4 separate regions of the Homo sapiens genome follow, and all the other regions are reported to be linked to region 1. The links are microRNA targets in miRTarBase. Many come from high-throughput screens and were not tested one by one. Region 1 holds a microRNA gene; each other region holds the end of a gene's coding sequence. Distances are from middle to middle.
What was found. The annotated mature microRNA hsa-miR-548c-3p reads CAAAAAUCUCAAUUACUUUUGC and lies in region 1 at 1,875-1,896, opposite strand. An mRNA with a match to its seed (bases 2 to 7 or 8) in the 3' UTR can be bound and repressed. Matches are read on the target gene's strand: a 7mer-m8 pairs with bases 2 to 8, a 7mer-A1 pairs with bases 2 to 7 and ends in A, and an 8mer does both.

Region 2: miRTarBase lists DHX36 as a target of hsa-miR-548c-3p. Seed matches in the 3' UTR shown: 7mer-A1 at 1,147-1,153, 7mer-A1 at 1,156-1,162, 7mer-A1 at 2,747-2,753, 7mer-A1 at 3,854-3,860, 7mer-A1 at 4,017-4,023 and 7mer-m8 at 4,047-4,053.
Region 3: the mRNA of NANOGNB is a reported target of hsa-miR-548c-3p. Seed matches in the 3' UTR shown: 7mer-A1 at 516-522.
Region 4: the mRNA of GALNT5 is a reported target of hsa-miR-548c-3p. Seed matches in the 3' UTR shown: 7mer-m8 at 589-595, 7mer-m8 at 885-891, 7mer-m8 at 1,230-1,236, 7mer-m8 at 2,850-2,856, 7mer-m8 at 3,292-3,298 and 7mer-A1 at 4,215-4,221.

What each region holds. Positions count from the first base shown.
Region 1 is chr12:64,619,311-64,624,464 of GRCh38, reverse strand. It overlaps MIR548C (microRNA 548c), which reads right to left and starts at 1,956; the gene lies at 1,860-1,956. The region is part of intron 1 of RASSF3 (Ras association domain family member 3); the gene reads right to left. It overlaps MIR548Z (microRNA 548z), which reads left to right and starts at 1,860; the gene lies at 1,860-1,956. RefSeq lists an enhancer at 2,875-3,034.
Region 2 is chr3:154,271,606-154,276,759 of GRCh38, reverse strand. DHX36 (DEAH-box helicase 36) reads left to right here. Exons shown (of 25, transcript NM_020865.3): 24 at 1-13; 25 at 404-4,214. The coding sequence ends at 589. Among named protein-coding and RNA genes, the nearest start is that of DHX36, 50 kb to the left of the region's middle.
Region 3 is chr12:7,773,528-7,778,681 of GRCh38, forward strand. NANOGNB (NANOG neighbor homeobox) reads left to right here. Exons shown (of 4, transcript NM_001145465.1): 4 at 273-594. The coding sequence ends at 324. Among named protein-coding and RNA genes, the nearest start is that of NANOGNB, 11 kb to the left of the region's middle.
Region 4 is chr2:157,310,881-157,316,034 of GRCh38, forward strand. GALNT5 (polypeptide N-acetylgalactosaminyltransferase 5) reads left to right here. Exons shown (of 10, transcript NM_014568.3): 10 at 328-5,154. The coding sequence ends at 468. Among named protein-coding and RNA genes, the nearest start is that of ERMN, 12 kb to the right of the region's middle.

The DNA.
Region 1 (5,154 bases):
TGTCTCTTAAAAATGTAAAAAATAAAAATAAATTAAAAAAACAAAGAGGTACAATGACTTGCTCAAGATAATACAGCTAGCACTGATTTAAACACAGGGTGCCCTACATAGCTGCTTGCAATTAATCAATTAAGAACACACACCCTTTTAGCCTATAGTTCTCCCTCTTTTTCATTACTGAGTTTTAAGCCCTCACCTCAAACAAGCAAGATGCATTGTAATGTTAATTTTAAAACTGTAACAGAGCTTCCTCCTTTAGGAATGGATTGTAAGTGGATTTGTTGATATCGGTGCTAGGTTTGCCTTTATGAAACGTACTCGTTCCGCTACACAATAAGCCCAAATTCTCTTCCCCCAAATTTCACAAATACTAATTTGGATACAGAGACCATCAACATGACAGCCAAGGATCAAACCCCTGCATGGCAGCAGCACCTCATTCATGCTAATTGACAGTTTCACGTGACCAAATCTGGTCAGAGGAAAAGCAAGAAAGCAATTCTAAAACAGAAATATGGCCGGACATGGTGGCTCACCCCTGTAATCCCAACACTTTGGGAGGCAGAGGCGGGCAGATCGGTTGAGGCCAGAAGTTTGAGGCCAGTCTGGCCAACACGGTGAAACTCTCTCTCTACTAAAAAAATAAAAATAAAAATTAGCCAGGCATGGTGGCGGGTGCTGGCAATCCCAGCTACTCGGGAAGCTGAGGCATGAGAATTTCTTGAACCTGGGAAGCAGAAGCTGCAGTGAGCCGAGATCGTGCCACTGCACTCCAGCCTGGGTGACAGAGTGAGACTCCATCTCAAAAAAATAAAAGAAAATAAAATTCTGAAATATCTGAAAGGGCTGTACCTTCCACCTAAAGGAACACTGGCAAGAAAAGCAATCCACAAGCCTGTCTGAACAAACAGAAACAGACCTTAAATGGACAAACGTAATATTGTTTCTTTATACCATCTACATAATATTTACATTTTCCCATAGCTGGGAAATTACTCACTACAGTCAAGTACCCCTAAATTTACCTCTGGCATGTCATGAAACCTGCATCTGCTTAAGGCCTAAACGGATAAACGTGCTAGTTAAATTTCTCATCTCAGAGTTCCTCTGAAATTAAAGTCCAATAAAATCAACTGAATTTTAATTCCCTTGGAATGCCCTGTTAACTGTAAAACACTAAGAAATGCTAAAGTTAATTTTGGTACTGGTACTTTTCCTCCTACGTGATATATTTAACTATGTTGTTTTCTATTTTCATTTAAAAAAATTTTGCTCCTATGACTTTGCTGGCAAAATATCAAAAAAGATTCCTCGAAACAAGCATTTGTAGAAAATTTTCACGGTGGCCGGGCGCGGTGGCTCATGCTTATAATCTCAGCACTCAGGGAGGCCGAGGCAGGCGGATCACCTGAGGTCAGGGGTTCGAGACCAGCCTGACCAACATGGTGAAACCCCGTCTCTACTAAAAATACAAAAATTAGCTGGGCATGGTGGTATGCGCCTGTATTCCCAGCTACTGGGGAGGCTGAGACTGAAGAATCACTTGAACTCAGGAGATGGAGGTTGCAGTGAGCCAAGATCGTGCCACTGTACTACAGCCTGGGCAACAGAGCAAGACTCCATCTCAAAAAAAAAAAGAAAGAAAAAAGAAAATTTTCACAGTAAGCTTGTTTGAATTAAGAAATTGGGGATTAAGGAGGGCTCATAATCTATCAATCATAAAGTCAGAAGTAACTCTTCACATCTTTTTAAAAGATTCACTTGATAAAAAGATTCTGAAAGAAAAAATTTAAAGTAGGAGTTAATCAGAATAAAAGAGATTAAGCAACAATTTTCTACTTAGGCTTCAACAAGCCTGAAAGTATTAAGTTGGTGCAAAAGTAATTGAGATTTTTGCTACTGAAAGTAATGGCAAAAACCGCAATTACTTTTGCACCAACCTAATAGATGCCAATGCCGATTCCTTTCTCATCGCAATTTTTCAACAAAAGACAGTAAGCCTATAAGTAAACAGTATAAATTATCTTTGGTGGGTAAGGTTTCCAGCAGTTTGTCCTACCATCCTTTTTTCAATACCTAGTATACTTACAAAATAAGTTAGGACTGGCCAGGCACGGTGGCTCACACCTGTAATCCCAACACTTTGGGAGGCCAAGGCAGGCGGATAACGAGCTCAGGAGTTTGACACCAGCCTGACCAACATGGTGAAACCCTGACTCTACTAAAAATACAAAAAAAAAAAAAAAAATAGCTGGACATGGTGGTGCATGCCTGTAATCCCAACTACTCAGGAGGCTGAGGCAGGAAAATAGCTTGAATCTGGGAGGCAGAGATTGCAGTGAGCCAAGATCGCGCCACTGCACTCCAGCCTGGTGACAGAGCAAGACTGTCAAAAAGATAAAAATAAATAAGTTAGGTTCTTCTAAATTCTACCAGAGTGGTTGGAAAACAAGCCCTAAATTTATTGAAATTCAAAGATAAACAGGAACTTCTAGTCACCCTTTTTTTTAAAACACATGGTTAGTAGAAAACACATCACCCAACTCCCCACCTTCTGAATCCCACGGGTTTATTTATGGTGATGCTTTCTTAGCAATGCCTTTCCCATGTTGTAACTACAGGAGTAATAAGTATTTTTCTGAGTTTCAGTGATGTCAGCCTGAAACACATTCTGAAGTATTTCAAAATGCCTGGGCCGGGCACGGTGGCTCACGCCTATAATCCCAGCACTTTGGGAGGCCCAGGCGGGTAGATTACCGGAGATCAGGAGTTCGAGACCATCCAGCCTGATCAATCCTGTCTCTACTAAAAATACAAAAATTAGCCGCGCATAGTGGCGCATGCCCATAATCCCAGCTACTTGGGAGGATGAAGCAGGAGAATCACTTGAACCTGGGAGGCGGAGGTTGCAGTGAGCCAAGTTCGCACCATTGCTCTCCAGCCTGGGCAACATGACCGAAACTCCATCTTAAAAAAATGAAAGCCTGAATATGTAATATCCTTTTGGTACAAACAGTGTAAGTCAAAAAAAACCCTGAAGTTCAGCTGACCTCAAAAAAGCAGAACCATCTACCAAGCTAAAAATGCACAGACTCAAGCAGTGCTCTCTCAAGATTTTGCCTACCTAATAGACAAATGGGCAAAGGTCATGCATGGACAATTCTCACACAAGGGAGATTTACTCAGAAGTATTTAAAAAGTATTAAATTCACAGTTAATTAAAGGAATGTGCCAGGCGCAGTGCCTCACGTCTGTAATCTCAGCACTTTGGGAGGCCGAGGTGGGTGGACCACCTGAGGTCAGGAGTTTGAGACCAGCCTGGCCAACATGGTGAAACCCCATCTCTACTAAAAATACAAAAATTAGCAGGGCGTAGTGGCAGGCGCCTGTAATCCCAGCTACTTGGGAGGCTGAGGCAGGAGAATCTCTTGAACCTGGGAGGCGGAGGTTGCAGTAAGCCAAGATCGCGCCATTACACTCCAGCCTGGGTGACGAGTAAAACTCCACCTCAAAAAATAATAATTTAAAAAATAATAATAAAGGAATGTAAATTAAATAGCAATAAGGTGCCTTTAGTTATTGAAGTTTTTTTTCTCTATTTTAATGACTATATCCAATGGAAGTAAGGGTGTAATGAAACTTAAAAATAGACATAAATTGGCAATATATAACTAGAATCATAAAAAGTCACACCCTCATAATTAGTAAAATTCCATTTTTGTACAACTATCCTATAAAATTAATCCATAATGGAAAAGGTTTCATGCTCAAGGTATTTATTAGTGCTATTTACAGTAGCAAAAATTAGAAACCTCCACATTTTCCAATATTTGGGAATAACGCCAATTCAATAAAATACAATGTAGACAACAAAATGACAGCTGAAATCAAGCAGCAGTATTCCATAATCCTGGGTTTAAATAAGGATTCAAATTTGTCAGTATAGTATTCCTCAAAAAATTAAAAACAGAATTACCATATGATTCTATAGCAACTGTTACTTATGGGTATATATCGCAAAAAGTTTTAAGAGGGGTCTTTAAGAGATATTTGTACACCCCTGTTCACAGCATCATTATTCACATGAGCCAAAAGGTGGAAGCAATCCTAATGTCTATGGAAGAATCAATGGATAAACAAAAAGTGATATATACATACAATGGATATATTATTCAGCCTTTAAAAGGAAGGAAATTCTGACACATACTCCAACATGAATAAATCTTGATGACATCAAGCTAAGTAAACTAAGCCAGTTACAAAAAAACAATTACTACACAAATTCACTTATCTAGACTAGTCAGACGAACCTATATACGCCCCCCATGAAGGCAGGTTTCAATCTGTTTCGTTCACCACCAAATCTCTAGCACTTAGTCTAGCATCATTGTGAATATTCAATACTTGAAAAATGAATTCAGAAAACTACACACACACACACACACACACAGTCAACCTGCACTAATTTCTTTTTTTTTTTTTTTTGATATAAAGTCTCACTCTGTTGCCCAAGCTGGAGTGCAGTGGCGCAATCTCGGCTCACCACAACCTCCACCTCCCAGGTTCAAGCGATTCTCCTGTCTCAGCCTACCGAGTAGCTGGGAGTACAGGCATGCACCACCATGCCTGCCTAATTTTTGTATTTTTAGTAGAGACGGGGTTTCACTATATTGGCCAGGTTAGTCTTGAACTCCCGACCTCGTGATCCGCCCGCCTTGGCCTCCCAATGTGCTGGGATTACAGGCGTGAGCCACCACGCCTGGCAACCTGCACTAATTTTAAGTGAACTCTTTGCTGACTATATTCTAAGTCCGTTAACTCCAAGATCTTCTAAATCCATCCTTCTGGTCTCCAATTCCCAAACTCACCCTTTTTCCTCCTCTAATTATCTCACCTTGTTTAGCATCTGGAAAAAGAACCAAGTGAGGCAATATATAATTAGTAAATTATTCTTAGCTGACTGAATCATGTAGCAGCAGTTAGCAATTACAGTCCACAAAATGCAAAATATTAAGCTTGCTCCTTTAATACTCTATGAAACATGAGCCCTCTTCTGTCCTTAAACTGAAGGCAGAGTTGCACCGAGAATGCCATTAGGTCAGTTTTATCTTATTGGCTCATGTGGAAAAAAAAAAGGGAAGTTCCCCACACAAA
Region 2 (5,154 bases), not on the chromosome of region 1:
CCATCTTGTTAAGGTGACTGACTTTATGTGATTATCTTAAATCTACATGTAAGTCAGCATGTGGTCATGTGGTTTTGTTCTAACTGTTAAATAGATTAACATTTCTTGCTCTATTTCAGCAGAGCAAATAATTTTGAAAAAATGATTCCTGGTTTTTCTGAATTGTGTTTTGAGGTGGTAACAGACCAGCCATTCTAAATGGCTCAGTGTGATTGCAGTGTGAATTTTAACTGCACTTTAGTTATTCACTCATAACCACACTTTAGTTGATTGCTCACTAAATGTTTTAGCTTTTGAGCCATCGCTTGTGAAACTCCTTGTATCAGGTAAATTAGTTTCATTTATTATGTTATTTGGTAATATATCTGCCTTTGTTGAACATGTATAATTTTTCCAACCTTAGGAATTAAGAAAGGAACTAGATATTCTTCTGCAAGAGAAGATTGAAAGTCCTCATCCTGTAGACTGGAATGACACTAAATCCAGAGACTGTGCAGTACTGTCAGCTATTATAGACTTGATCAAAACACAGGAAAAGGCAACTCCCAGGAACTTTCCGCCACGATTCCAGGATGGATATTACAGCTGACAGCTTTTCAGGGGTGGTCTGAAAAGCCAGTTTGACAGCCATTCTTCATCATTGTTTAAATTTTGGCTGGATGCCAAACCCTGGGACATGAACAATTTTCATGTGTAAGGTAGAAGCCTTCAGTAGGTAGTAAAGACTTAATGTGCATGACTTGATGTTATATGTAGAGATATATATATATATATATATATACCATAAAAGCAATATGTTCTCTGATCATATACTCTGCTGTGGTCATGCCCACTCTTTGGGAGTATATTCCCTTTATATATATTGAGTATTGTACCACTTGAGAAATTCCTTTGTTCTGTTATACAAAATTAATCTTTCTGCTCATAATGATTGATGATACCACCAGTAAAAATAGGATGTTTACCCCAAAACAAGTGTCAATTAAGAATTTGAACACAACCACATTTTTTAAAATGAAACTTCTATCGGAAGTAAATTAATTTGTTGTAATAAAGTCCAGTATTTAATAAAATGTACAATGTTAAATCTCAGCCAACCTCTTGGATTGGTTTCTACATTTTCACCTATGGCTTGGTTCATTTGATATTTTTACTATTTTTAAAACACGTGCCCTTTTTATATCACCCTGTGCCTCATAATACAGCAATTGAGAGCACGGTCTGGAGCCTGATTACCTCAGTTCCAGTCTCAGCTCTGTCAGTTAGTCAGTGTCTTGGCTTCTCTCCTTTTTCCTTATCTTGTAAGATACAGTTGGCCCTTCATATCCATGCATTCCACATCTGTGGATTCAAACAACTGTGGATAGAAGATATTTGGGGAAAAAAAGGATGGTTGTGTCTATACTGAACATGTGCAGACTTTTTTCCTTGTCATTCCCTAAACAATACAGTTTAACAGCTATTTATATAGTATTTACATTGTATTAGGTATTATAAATAATCTAGAGATGACTTAAAGAATATGGGAGGTTGTGCCTAGGTAACATGCAAATACTACGCCATTTTATTATAAAAGACTTGAGCATCCATGGATTTAGGTATTTGAGGGGTTGGGGTTGGAAACCAGTCCCCCACAGATACTGAGGGACAACTGTACATGTAACAGTTGTGAGGATGAAGTACATTAATACATGTAAAGCACATAGGCTAGTGCCTGTACTCTCTGAATCTTAGTTGTTATTTGTCCCTGAAATATTTTCGTAAATGTCTAACAATCTATTATATTACACTTTTTATTTTATTGCTACTTATCTTCTTCGCCAAGGAATAGTGTAACAACACATGCTGTACATTTTCAGCCCTATCAGATTGTGATAAATACTGTTGGTTGCCGGCCAGCAACTATTTTGTCCCTCCCTTCTTGCTTGCTTATTCTGGTGTTCCCTTCTGTGCAGCTCTGTGTCCAGGTATGTTGGACCCTTTCCCTAAGGGTGAATCCTGCTGTTCTAAATGAATCACATGTGGTCTTATCCCCCTTATAAGTAATTGATAAGGCATGAGTACATAAACATGTCCTAGTGAATGGCAGCTGAGAAGTGATCTTCAAGGGGGTGTCTGAAAAATGTTTTACTCACTAATAGGCTTAGAGGAGGAAATCCTGCTCTCTCTGGACATTGTCTTTTCTGACTCTGATAGTTGGAACTGCTGCAGCCAACTAATGATCACAAGGAGACACGGACTCAGACTGAGGTTAGCTCAGTGGAAAGATAGAACTCACCAGAGCCTTTGATAATGCCGGTAAGCTTCAGAATTAACCCATTCTAGAGCTGCTTTACATGTGGACTTATGTTGATATAATAAAAACCCTTCAATTGTTTAAGCCACTTTTAATAGGATATTGTTAGTTTTTTGTTGGTTTTTTGTTTTGTTTTGTTTTGTTTTTTGTTTTTTGGAGACAGTGTCTTGCCCTGTCACCCAGGCTGGAGTGCAGTGGTGTGATCTTGGTTCACTGCAGCCTCGACTTCCTGGGTTCAAGTGATCCTTCTGCCTCAGCCTCCCAAATAGCTGGGACTATAGGCATGCATCACCACACCCAGCTAATTTCTGTATTTTTTGTAGAGACACCGTTTCACCATGTTGCCCAGGCTGGTCTCAAAACTCCTGTGCTCAAGCAGTCTGCCCGCCTTGGCTTCCCAAAGTGCTGACATTACAGGTATGAGCCACTGCACCCGGTCCCTAGTAGGGTATTTTTAACTTGGCAAAAAGGGTATTAATCAGAAACATACACTATCCATCACTGAGTATTATACTCTTGATTTTGCAATGTAAGAGTTTTAACCTATTTGTCTGACAGAAGGTGTAAAAGTGCTGGACATGCTGCAGAAAGAAACAGGAAAAGCATCTTGCTGCACTCCAAAGAATGCAAATTTTAATGTGCCTTCCAATAAATGCAAGGAAACCGAAAGAGTTAATAGTATCATACAATGACTGGGATGTATTGATAATGCTACAGTGATCCATTAACAGCACTTGTTCAGGTACTGCTCCCAATCCTGGGAATGTGTGTTACCTGTTATGTCTCAAATCCTTTATCTTGGCTGTTCTTCTAAAAGTGATCTGTCTGTCATTGAATGCTGGCATTAGAGTCATGTCACAATATTAGAGCATACTGGTTTTGCCTCTAACGTCGAGGTGACCATCTGGTCTTTCTTGCTCTGTAAGAGTTTCTGTTTGTGCTTTTTTTTCCCTTACTTTTATTATCCAGTTTAAATCCAGTCAGTTGGCCAAAATGGTCTTGGAAGAAAGGATTTAGAGATTCTGTAAAAAAGATTATTAGTTGGTTCTGTGTTTGCAAACCAGTATGTAATTCCCATATGAATGGGGAAAATGTTCCTGAGGAATTATTTAATTGATGAGGCATTCACAGAGATTAAAGCAGTTATTGTTACCTCCAATTTATGTCTTCTGCACAGCTGATTAGGTTGGACATTTTAATCCAAGGTGCTACTTACATTCTGTTTCTTTTGTTTACAAAATAGGGCATTACTGAGTAGAAAATACATTCCAGGTCTAAGAACTGTTTGTTCTTTAGTGGATTTTAAAGAATAAGACATTAAATTAAGAAGGAAAATCTGTTTGATTCATCATTTTGAGTAATGCAGAGAATAACTCTTAAAAAAAAAACCTGAAACAGAAACTTTCAGGAAAAAAACAAAAGAAATTAAACTACTGAATAATCTTTCAAAAGCATCGTTGAACAGTGAGCACATGTGATGCCTTCCCAATTAATTAATTTGGGCAAAAGCTCTAGATAAACTTACACCAATTGTTGCAAGGCATTCTCTATTACTGCATTTTTAAAACAAAGTCCTCCCCTAAAAGTTATGAATTATACAAAAGCTTTAGGAGGAATTTTAGTACTCCTTTACCCAAAATAAATAGTGGTAAATTTCCTTCTGTTCTTAGCTCTGAGTTTGTATTTATTTATAAGTCATTGTGATCATGTATACTTATATATTTTTAATATGCTAATTGCTTTTAAATGGGATTTTTGTTCTGATTTTAAAATAATACATCCTCCCTGGACAATATTTGGAAATGTAGCAAAGTAAATCATGTTACCATTGTTCCATTTTGATATATATAAACTTTAGGTATTATTTTATATATAATAAATTTTAAGATATTATATACAATAAAATTAACCAATTTAAGTATATGATTCAGTGAATTTTGTCAAACATATAGTAGTGTAATTACCACCACCACAATCTTGATACAGAACTTTTTTTTCCCCAGAGATGGAGTTTCGCACTGTCACCCAGGCTGGAATGCAATGGCGCAATCTCGGCTCACTGCAACCTTCGTCTGCCCGGGTTCAAGCAATTCTCTGGCCTCAGCCTCCTGAGTAGCTGGGATTACAGGCACGCGCCGCCATGCCCGGCTAACTTTTGTATTTTTAGTAGAGATGGGGTTTCACCATGTTGGCCAGGCTGGTCTCGAACTCCTGACCTCATGATCCACCTGCCTCGGCCTCCCAAAGTGCTGGGATTACAGGCGTGAACCACCACACCCAGCTGATATAGAACATTTGTATCACCTAAAAATTTCCCTTTTACCCCTTTGTAGTCAATCCCTCACCCCCACTTCTATCCCCTCGAAACCCATTGATCTGCGTTTTGTCACTTTTCGTTTTGCCTTTTCTAGAATTTCAAATAACCAGTCTTTTGTGTCCAGCTTCTTTCACTTAATGTAATACTTTTGAGATACTGATATTGTTACATGTATTAGTAGGTAGTTCCTGTTTTATCTTCTATTCAGTAGTATTTGCATTGTATAGTTATACCACAGTTTGTTAATTCATTTACCAGTTGATGGACATTTGAGTTGTTTTCAGTTTTTTTGCTGTTATGAATAAAGCTGCTATGAACATATGTATATAAGTCTTTGTGTGGTTATATGTTTTCATTTGTCTTGGGTAAATACCTAAGATTAAGGTTGTTGTATTATAGTAAGTGTGTTTGTATAAGAAACTGCTAAACTGTTTTCAGAATTTGCTGAAATTTTACATTCCCAACAGCAATGTGTGTTGGGGGGGTCAGAGTATTCCACATCCTTGCCAGTACTTGGTATTTTTAGCTGTCGTTTTAATTT
Region 3 (5,154 bases), 57 Mb from region 1:
CCATCTCTACTAAAAATACAAAAAAAAAAAAAAAAAAAAAAAAAAAAAAAAAGCCAGGCTTGGTGGCAGGTGCCTGTAATCCCAGCTACTCGGGAGGCTGAGGCAGGAGAATTGCTTGACCTGGGAGATGGAGGTTGCAGTCAGCCGAGATTGTGCCATTGCACTCCAGCTTGGGTGACAAGAGTGAAACTCCATCTCAAAAAAAAATTTAAAATAAATAAATATATAGACTGTGTTGCGAAACTCTTTTTTTTTTTTTTTTTTTTAAACAGATGGAGATCTCTGTGTTGCCAAGGCTGGTCTCGAACTCCTGCCCTCAAGTGATCTTCCTATTTTGGCCTCCAGAAATGCTGTGATTACAAGCATGAGCCATCGCACTGGCTAAGACATTTTACATGACACCATTCTCACCAATAAATGGAGTTCTGAAAGGATAAACAAGAAAACATTAACAGTCGTTGATTCCGTGGAGTAGAACTAAATGAGGGGTATGCAAAGGAGTTTTTATGTGTTTTATTTTTACCCTACTGTAGATTTAAAGTTTTTATAATGGATGTTAATTGATTTTATTTAAGAAAAAAAATCGAGTCAAGGCCGGGCACAGTGGAGCACGCCTGTAATCCCAGCACTTTGGGAAGCCAAGACGGGTGGGTTACCTGAGGTCAGGAGTTCGAGACCAGCCTGACTAACATGATGAAACCCTGTCTCTACTAAATACAAAAAAATTAGCCGGGCGTGGTGGTGTATGCCTGTAATCCAAGCTACTTGGGAGGCTGAGACAGGAGAATCGCTTGTACCTGGGAAGTGGAGGTTGCAGTGAGTCAAGGTCGCACAATTGCATTCCAGTCTGGGCAACATGAGCGAAACTCTGTCTCAAAAAAAAAAAAAAGAAAAAGAAAATAAAAAAATCAATGAAGAAATTACCAACCTGTGGAAATGTTTTGAGACTGAAAGGGAAATCCATTATAGAAGCTAACGGGTTCAGTGCCTTCTGCAATTTGTCAATATATTTCTAAACATCCCCTCCAAACATGACTTTTCTCTACAAATGTGATTATACTCCTGGAAGGGCAATTTGTTGTTGTTGTTGTTTTTGTGATAGGATCTTGCTCTGTTGCCCAGGCTGGAGTGCAGTGGTGCAGTCTCGGCTCACGCAACCTCTGCCTGGGTTAAAGTGATTCTCCTGCCTCAGCCTCCCAAGTAGCTGGGATTATAGGCGTGAGCTACAGTGCCCAGGCAAGGGTGACTGTTTTCTGATGTGTGACTTGAGTCAGAGGACTAAGGTCATTTAGATTTTTTTTCTTTTTGAGATGGAGTTTCCCTCTTGTTGCCCAGACTGGAGTGCAATGGTGCGATCTTGGCTCACCACAGCCTCCGCCTCCCGGGTTCAAGTGATTCTCCTGCCTCAGCCTCCGGAGTAGCTGGGATTACAGGCATGCGCCACCACGCCTGGCTACTTTTGTATTTTTAGTAGAGACAGGGTTTCTCCATGTTGGTCAGGCTGGTCTCGAACTCCTGACCTCAGGTGATCTGCCTGCCTCGGCCTCCCAAAGTGCTGGGATTACAGGCATAAGCCACCACGCCTGGACCAATCTTTGTATTTTTTGTAGAGACTGGGTTTCATCATGTTGCCCAGGCTGATCTTGAACACCTGGACTCTACCAATTGTCTCACCTCTGCCTCACAAACTGTTGGAATTATAGGCATGGGCCACTGTGCCCGGCTTCTAATATTCTTTAAATGCTTTTCACCTTAAACTAATTTTGTTGTTTATTATTAAGAACACTGATATACTCTGCATAGCTTGCCATCACACTTAGGATAAAATTATGATTCCTGACTATGGCCTGTAAAAACCTAAAAGATCTGGTCCCTGCTAAAGTCTCCAATCTCATCTGACCACATTCCCTGACTTGCTCGTTACACGCCAAACACACCTTCTTTTGTTTCTCAGAGACAGTAAGTTTCTTACCATCTCCAGACTTATGCTCTTGCTGTTCCCACAGCTTACAATGGTCTGCTTGCAGATTTGAGAGTGGCTGCCTCCTTTGCAACATTCAGATCTCACTTCTAATGTCACCTATTCAAAAATGTTTTCTGTGACTACCTATCTGAAGTAGCCCTACACATACTCAGTCATCTGGTCATATTATTTATTTTTATTTACTTTATAGCACTCAGCATCATCTAAAATTACTATATTTATATATTGCTTCATCTCTCTACCCCCACCATAATGAGAGCTCTCTTAGTGTTGGAAACTTGTTGATCTCATTCATTGTCATAATCACATGTATTTCAACTAGTTTCTGATATACAGTAGGTACTCAATAAATATTATTGAATAAATATGGAATAAAAATTTATTGGCCTGGCGCTGTGGCTCATGCCTGTAATCCTAGCACTTTGGGAGGCTGAGGCCGGTGGATCACTTGAAGTCAGGAGTTCAAAACCAGCCTGGCCAACATGGTGAAACCCAATCTCTACTAAAAATTCAAAAAAATTAGCCAAGCATGGTGGCAGGCGCCTATAGTCCCAGCTACTTGGGAGGCTGAGGCAGGAGAATCGCTTGAACCCAGGAGGCAGAGGTTGCAGTAAGCTGAGATGGCACCACTGCAATCCAGCCTGGGTGACACAGCAAAACTCCATCTCAAAATAAATAAATAAACAAATGAATTAATTAAATTAAAATAAAGTGTATAAGTTAGTAGGGTTTGATACATTATTTCATGGGGAATTTAATATTTTTCTTTTTTTTTGAGATGGAGTTTCCCTCTTGTTGCTCAGGCTGGAGTGCAATGGTGTGATCTCAGCTCTCTGCACCCTCCGCCTCCCAGGTTCATGCAATTCTCCTGCCTCAACCTCCCCAGTAGCTGGGATTACAGGCATATGCCACCATGCCTGGCTAATTCTATATTTTTAGTAGAGATGAAGTTTCTCTGTGTTGGTCAGGCTGGTCTCGAACTCCCAACCTCAGGTGAGCCACCACGCCTCACCAATATTGTATTTTTAGTAGAGATGGTGTTTTACCATGTTGGCCAAGCTGGTCTCCAACTCCTGACCTCAGGTGATCCGCCCACCTCAGCCTCCCAAAGTGCTGAGATTACAGGCATGAGCCACCACACCCAGCCTGTGGTGGTAATTTTTGAGCTCCAGTTTCTATCCCCAACTTTTGAGACTTTCACTCTCCAACTCAAAAAAAGAACACTAGTTAGAAGATGAGAAAGCCCAGGCGCTAGTCTATAAGTGTGTTACTGTACACATCAGCCATTCTTACAGGCTTCCTGCCTATACATCTTTGGTAGTTAGATAAAATGCAGTCTTTTTACCACATTTTTGGATCACAGAAAATGACCGTGAAGCTAAGGAAGACAGGGAGAGTGGAATTTAAGATTAGCCATCAGCCCATCTTTCATTAGCCATTTCTCTAATCCAGTCCTGAATTTTCCTCTTTCCAGTAATATGTAGGGTAGCACTATGTTCAAAGCGGCCACTGGGATTTAGGTATTTTAATATCTGTACTGTGTTTCTAGATAAGTAAAAGAACCAGGTGAATTTATCAGCCCTCAGTAAACCTGGGGGAGCCAGTTTATTGAACTAGTGCTCTTAAGTAGAGGACATTTCCAACTTTGGTAAGTTTATCTCCCATTCCCTATATCACGGAGTGAGAGAAATTTGGAGAAAAGAATTTCTATTTCCTAATCTCAGTTTTTTTTTTTTTTTTAGATGGAGTTTTGCTCTTGTTGACCAGGCTGGAGTGCAATGGCGCAATCTCGGCTCGCTGCAACCTCTGCCTCCCAGGTTCAAGCGATTCTCATACCTCAGCCTCCCGAGTAGCTGGGATTATAGGCATGAGCCACCACACCTGGGTAATTTAGTTATTTTTAGTAGAGATGGGTTTTCTCCATGTTGGTCAGGCTGGTCTCCAACTCCTGACCTCAGGTGATCCACCCCCCTCGGCCTCCCAAAGTGTTGGGATAACAGGCGTGAGCCACTGCGCCTGGCCGGCTCATTTCTTTTGATCACTTACTAATATTTCATTGTGTAGATGGACCACAGTTTATCCATTCACCCTACTGAAGGACATCTTGGTAAATTTTAGCAACTGTGAATAAAACCGCTCCAGCCGGGCACGATGGCTCACGGCTGTAATCCCACCACTTAGGGAGGCCGAGGTAGATGGATCCCCGAGGTCAGGAGTAAGAGACCAGCCTGGCCAATATGGTGAAACCCTGTCTCTAATAAACATACAAAAATTAGCCGGGTGTGGTGGCGGGAGCCTGTAATGCCAGCTACTCCAGAGGCTGAGGAGGAGAATGGCTTGAACCCAGGAAGCGGAGGTTGCAGTGAGCCAAGATCGAGCCACTGCACTCCAGTTTGGACGACAGAGCTAGACTCCATCTAAAAAAAAATTTCCTAACCCCCATTGTGATGATAATAGGAGATAGGGCCTTTGGGAGGTGATTAGGCAGTAAGAGTGGCATCTTATAAATGAGATTAGTGTACTTATAAAAGAGACAGTGTAGAGCTCTCTCCCCGATTTTAGTCACCTGTGAACCAGGAAGCATGCCCTCCCCAGACAGTGAATTTGCTGGAGCCTTGATCTTGGACTTCCCAGTCACCCAGAACACGTGTTGGTGAGGATGTGGAGAAAAGAGAAAGTTTTTACATTGATGGGAAGCTAAGTTGGTGCAGTCATTATGGAAAGCAGTATGGAGATTCCTCAAAAAATTAAAAACAGAACTACTGTATAATCCAGCAATTCCAATTCTGGGTATATACCCAAAGGAAATGAAGCCAGCCCCTTGTAAAAATAACTGCATCCTGGCTGGGTGTGTTGGGAGTCCAAGGTGGGTGGATCATCTGAGGTCAGGAGTTGGAGACCAGCCTGGACATCATGGTAAAACCCTGTCTCTACTAAAAATACAAAAAAATTGGCTGGGTGCGGTGGCTTATGCCTATAATCTCAACAATTTGGGAGGCTGAGGTGAGAGGATCAGCTGAGGTCAGGAGTTCGAGACTAGCCTGGCCAACATGGTGAAAACTCCATCTCTACTAATAATACAAAAATAAGCCGGGCGTGGTGGTGCACATCTGTAATCCCAGCTACTCCGGAGGCTGAGACAGGAGAATTGCTTGAACCCAGGAGGCGGA
Region 4 (5,154 bases), not on the chromosome of region 1:
TTATCATCTATCAAATCCAATAAATGTCATCTGTAATGTTTTCTCTTTAAAGAGTATAGTTCTCAGCCATATCATCAAGAAATTTTTCTTTTGCCTCCTGAGGACTTAAAAGTCTTATAGCTTGGTGGAGGATGATTACTTAGTCTGAGACAGAGACAAATTTAATACTTTTCAAAGTCTGTGTTTATGTTAATAATTTAGTTCAGAAGAATTCTTAAAAATCAAAAATATAACTGCCTGTCCATTTTTTTAATTGATTTTCATTTCTTCATATTGCAGTTATCAAATTCAGCCTGTGGCTCATTCCCAGCTCTTCTTTCTCTCCAGGTGAATCACATTGTTTTTGAAAACAATCAGCAATTATTATGCTTGGAAGGAAATTTTTCTCAAAAGATCCTGAAAGTAGCTGCCTGTGACCCAGTGAAGCCATATCAAAAGTGGAAATTTGAAAAATATTATGAAGCCTGAAGTGTAACTGATGTTTTTATATAGTAAACCCATTAAATACTGTGAAAATAACACTGAACTTGGAAACTATATTTCTCAGCGGTAGTTTAAATTTTCAATTTTAATAACATTTGAATGGAAGATTTTTTATAAATCACAATATTTGGAATACCAAAAGATGACTCAGGAAAACAGTCCAACATTGGACTGAAGTCCTTCTTCGGAACTGGGTGGCCTTTGAATTGCCTGCTTTCCACCCTATGCTAGACCTCATCATGCAAATTTCCCTGTGAAAGCTAACAGGTAACTGGAAATGAAGACAGAAGGACTTGAGAAAGCATGAGGATATTCCCAATGACTATGTTTGGTAATAATCAGCTCTTCTGGCCCACAAGTAGGAATGATCAATGAGAACTTAACTTAGTCCTTTATTTGGGGATTTTTTCATCAAACAAAAATTTCTTGAGTTCTTATGGCTAGAAGACCTCAGATGCCCACAGCTGTCACGTTTGTGAAATCCCTCCAGACTACATGCATGCTTACCTAACAGTTTGAAATAGTATTGATCTACTGCTGGTAACCCTGCTTGATGGCAGCATTTTGATCTAAATTACATAATGGTTTTTCCCAATCTGAATCAGTGGAAAAAAATTTAAGTGAGGAAGAAGAGGCCTTCAAATGCTTATTTAATTCTAGGTATGAACACTATTTCAGTTCATTTTGTGCTTTTAAAACTACAGTTTTAAAGATTTATGATACCAATAACTTCCTAGATTCATGTGGATTTTTTTTAAGGCAATGAAAAAAGGCTGGATTATAACACACTGTAGTAATCAAAAATGCATTTAAGCATTGAATGCACTCTAGTGCAGGGCCAAGTAAGAGGAGTTGAAATGAGTAAAGCAGAAATAGAGCTGCTGAAAGTTTCTTTTATATAAAAATAATAAAATACTACTTTAGATATAGTAGCATTCACAGGGATGAAATATGCGAAAAATGGGTTCTAAAATATTTCAAAGGGAAAATGAAGTGAAGGAAACATCATGAAAGGGGAAAGGAATGAGGTAAACAAGTCTTAGGAAGAGAGTTAAGAAAAAATTCCGCTGGACTTGGCCAAAGAAAGAAGGGGATCTAGTATCTCTATGAAGGAAAAAAGAGTAAAGCCCTCAGTGTGAACCCAGTGAGAACACTGACAAATTTGGGAAAAGTTAAATACTGATTTCATCCAAATAAAGCCTCTAATCTTAAGCATACCAATACTTTGGCATACCAGAAGACACCTTAGAAATCAGGATAGCCTTTGCATTCATTTTGGTAAGAAAACTGATGCTGAGAGGATAAATTACCTAAAAATCTTAAAACCCAGGCAAGTTAGTCAAAGAATCAAGATTAGAATTCAGGTTTCCAGAGACAGGGCTCATTCTAATGCCTCAGGTCACTGGCCCGAACAAATCTGCTTCACAGAATTCCTTAGAAAGAGATACACAATTCTTTGCTGGGATTGGGTCCCTGGAGGACAACCATACTATATTCTTGTTAATATGTTTTTTCTTTTTTTAAATTTAAACTTTTGTTCAGTTGAGATGATTGTGAAACTAGGTATCTTTCATTCTGACTCCTAGTTTAACATTTAATTTTGACTCCCAATGAGTTACGTAAAAGCAAAACTATAACTAAGAATGGGAAAAAGAACTATTTCTGCACATTTGTAACATATTTAAGATGTTTTCTTCATATAATTGAAAACTGCAGATGAGTAAGAGAATGACTAGGAAATGAGATACAGTTATATGACACATAATGATGTTTTAGTCAACAATGAACCACATATTTGACATTGGTCCCAAAAGATTATATTAATAATATGGTATCTTTAGTGTGCTTTTCTATGTTTAGACACACAAATACTCACCATGATGTTACAATAGCCTACAGTGTTCAATACAGTAACATGCACAAGTTTGTAACCTAGGAGCAACAGGGATTCCATATAGCCTAGGTGTGTAGTAGGCTACCTACACCATCTAGGTTTGTGTAAGTACACTCTGATATTCACACAATGATGAAATTGCCTAATGACACATTTCTCAGAATGTATTTGTGTTATTAAATGATGCATGACTCTAATTCTTTTCAAAACAGAGCCATATGGGGCAAGGGGGATGGGGGGACGCAAGTCAGTTGTCAAAAGACTAATTGAGTTACTGACAAACTGAACATGCTAGGTGCCTCATGTAATTCTTCATGTAACTAAAAAATGTTGAGAGGTTTTTTTCCCCCGGGTATATAGGCTCTCTTTTTATCCGAAAATAGTTTCCACAAAGAAGTCAACTCTGTTCTGAAAAAAAATGAATTGCATTTTGAATACACTTATCTTTGGGTATATCAACTAAAGGAAGTTGGATTTTTTTCCTTAACAGAAACTTCTGCAGTCCTCTCAGTTCACATCCTTTCTGACTTTACCCTGACAAACTTATTATATAAAGCTATATTTAAATCTATATTGTCAATATAACAAAGGATTGTTTTTGAACATCACAAATTTGTTCTTGGATAGAATTTTATACATTGCTTTTCATCATATATTTGCTCAGTTACTCTAAGAAGCAAGGAACTGATCACTAGTTGGGAATCTATATGGGCCTAAACTTGAGTGTATTGATTTATTATTACATCTACTACCAACATTTTCTTAAGCATAGCCTTCTAAATTTTTTCAGGAGATTAGAATAAAGGTATACATGCTACTCGGTCTTCTGGTAATTCTAGTGATAAACCTTTGGATGAGACAGGTCCTAATCAGCACTGAATTCTTCAATAGGAGGCTGTGTTACAGGAGCTACAGATTTTTCCCTGGATTAGCTTAGGTCATTGCCTTTACTTTAAAAAAAAAAAAAAAAAGTCTATGCATCTTGTTACCTTGAATACAAGGGTGGTCTTGATAATATTTGACAGCACTAACCAACTTACCAAGCCATCTAAGTGCTTCTGAGACTTTTCAGTTTGCACAATTTCTTTCTCCTTTTCAACAGTTACCCAGCGCTTCTGCCCTACTCTCTTGTAAGCTGACACAGTTGTTGTTGGTACAATCTTGTTCTATCACCAGCATCAAATTTGCTTAATACTGCTTGTTGACATCCCCTCAGCTGTCATTCACAGCAAACCACCATGTGCCATGATCACAATGTATTATTAGCTTCGCCACACTAATTTGGAAACATTCTTTTAGATATTAAAACACCTTACTTCTAGTATTAGTTTGGGACTGCAGAGGGGCAAAGATACCATTTACAGTATATAGGAGTCCAATATTCCCAACCAACCTTGATTTCATGAATGGCTTGTAATTATTTCTAGCAGGCACTCATGCAATAGAATAAGATTGAAACATGCCAGAGAGTACCATCTTTCTTTGTTTTAACATCTCTGATTGAATTCCTATATTCAGAATACAAGAAAAAAAATTTACCAACCAGGCGCAGTGGCTCACACCTGTAATCCTAGCACTTTAGGAGGCCAAGGTGGGTGGATCATGAGGTCAGGAGTTCAAGACCAGCCTGGGCAACATGGTGAAACCCCGTCTCTACTAAAAATACAAAAATTAGCTGGGCATGGTGGTGGGCGCCTGTAATCCCAGCTACCTGGGAGGCTGAAGCAGGAGAATTGCTTGTACCCGGGAGGTGGAGGTTGCAGTGAGCTGAAATTGCGCCACTGCACTCCAGCCTAGACAACAGAGCAAGACTCTATCTCAAAAAATAATAATAATAATTTTTACCTCAGAAGAAAGCCCCAAAATCTTGGATTAAAACAAAAAAATGACATTGGGTGATGGGAAAAAAGAAAGGAACTAATTATCATTGAGTGTGTGTAGGTACTATTTGTGTAGGTGCTATATGTGTCCCATCTCACTGATGGGTACAACTCATCAAATGACTCTCATTCTCCCTGTTATATGAACAAGAAGGATAACTCCCACATACAGATGAGGAATTTGGTAAATTGCCCAAGGTCATCCCACAAGTAAGAGATAAAACCCAGTTTCCATTTTATCTGGCTCAAAAAAAATTTCTCTCACTATACCATGCTGCTATATAATTAATTTTCTTCTTTACAAAGGGCTGTCATCTCAGGTGGGTGCATTTAAAAGTTTCTTGGTCTCAGATTACTGATGCCACAGTATTGAGATGAGATTGAATTAAACCCCTTTGGCCTCTTTTGGATGTTGTATAAACAGAAAAAAGAAGCATGGTCTCTCTCTCTCTGTGGTAACCAATTGATGTGTAGGTATAAACATGGCTACCCCCACATGTTTTGCTGTGATCTATCTCTTTGACTTCATGCAGAACCTATTCTTTTTCATCTCCTGGACCAAATGTGAAAGAAAGAAGTGGACATGTGGAGGATTCTTTCTCTGTGAATAATATTGAAAAAGCTCCATTTTCTGGGGAAATACCCATGGTTCATTGTCTGATGCCAAGAAAGAATTCAGGACACAGACACACATGAGGAGTGGGTTTAGGAGTGGAAAGTTTAATAGATAAAGAAGAGAGTGAGAAAGCTTCCTCATGTTGAGAAAGACAGTTGCTCAAGAGAGGGTTTTCTGGGTTTGGGGCAAGATTTGATTGATTTCATACAGAGGCTTGAGGAGGCGGTGATTGATATACATAGGGCCCGGGGATTGGTTTAACCAGGTATACTACTTACATA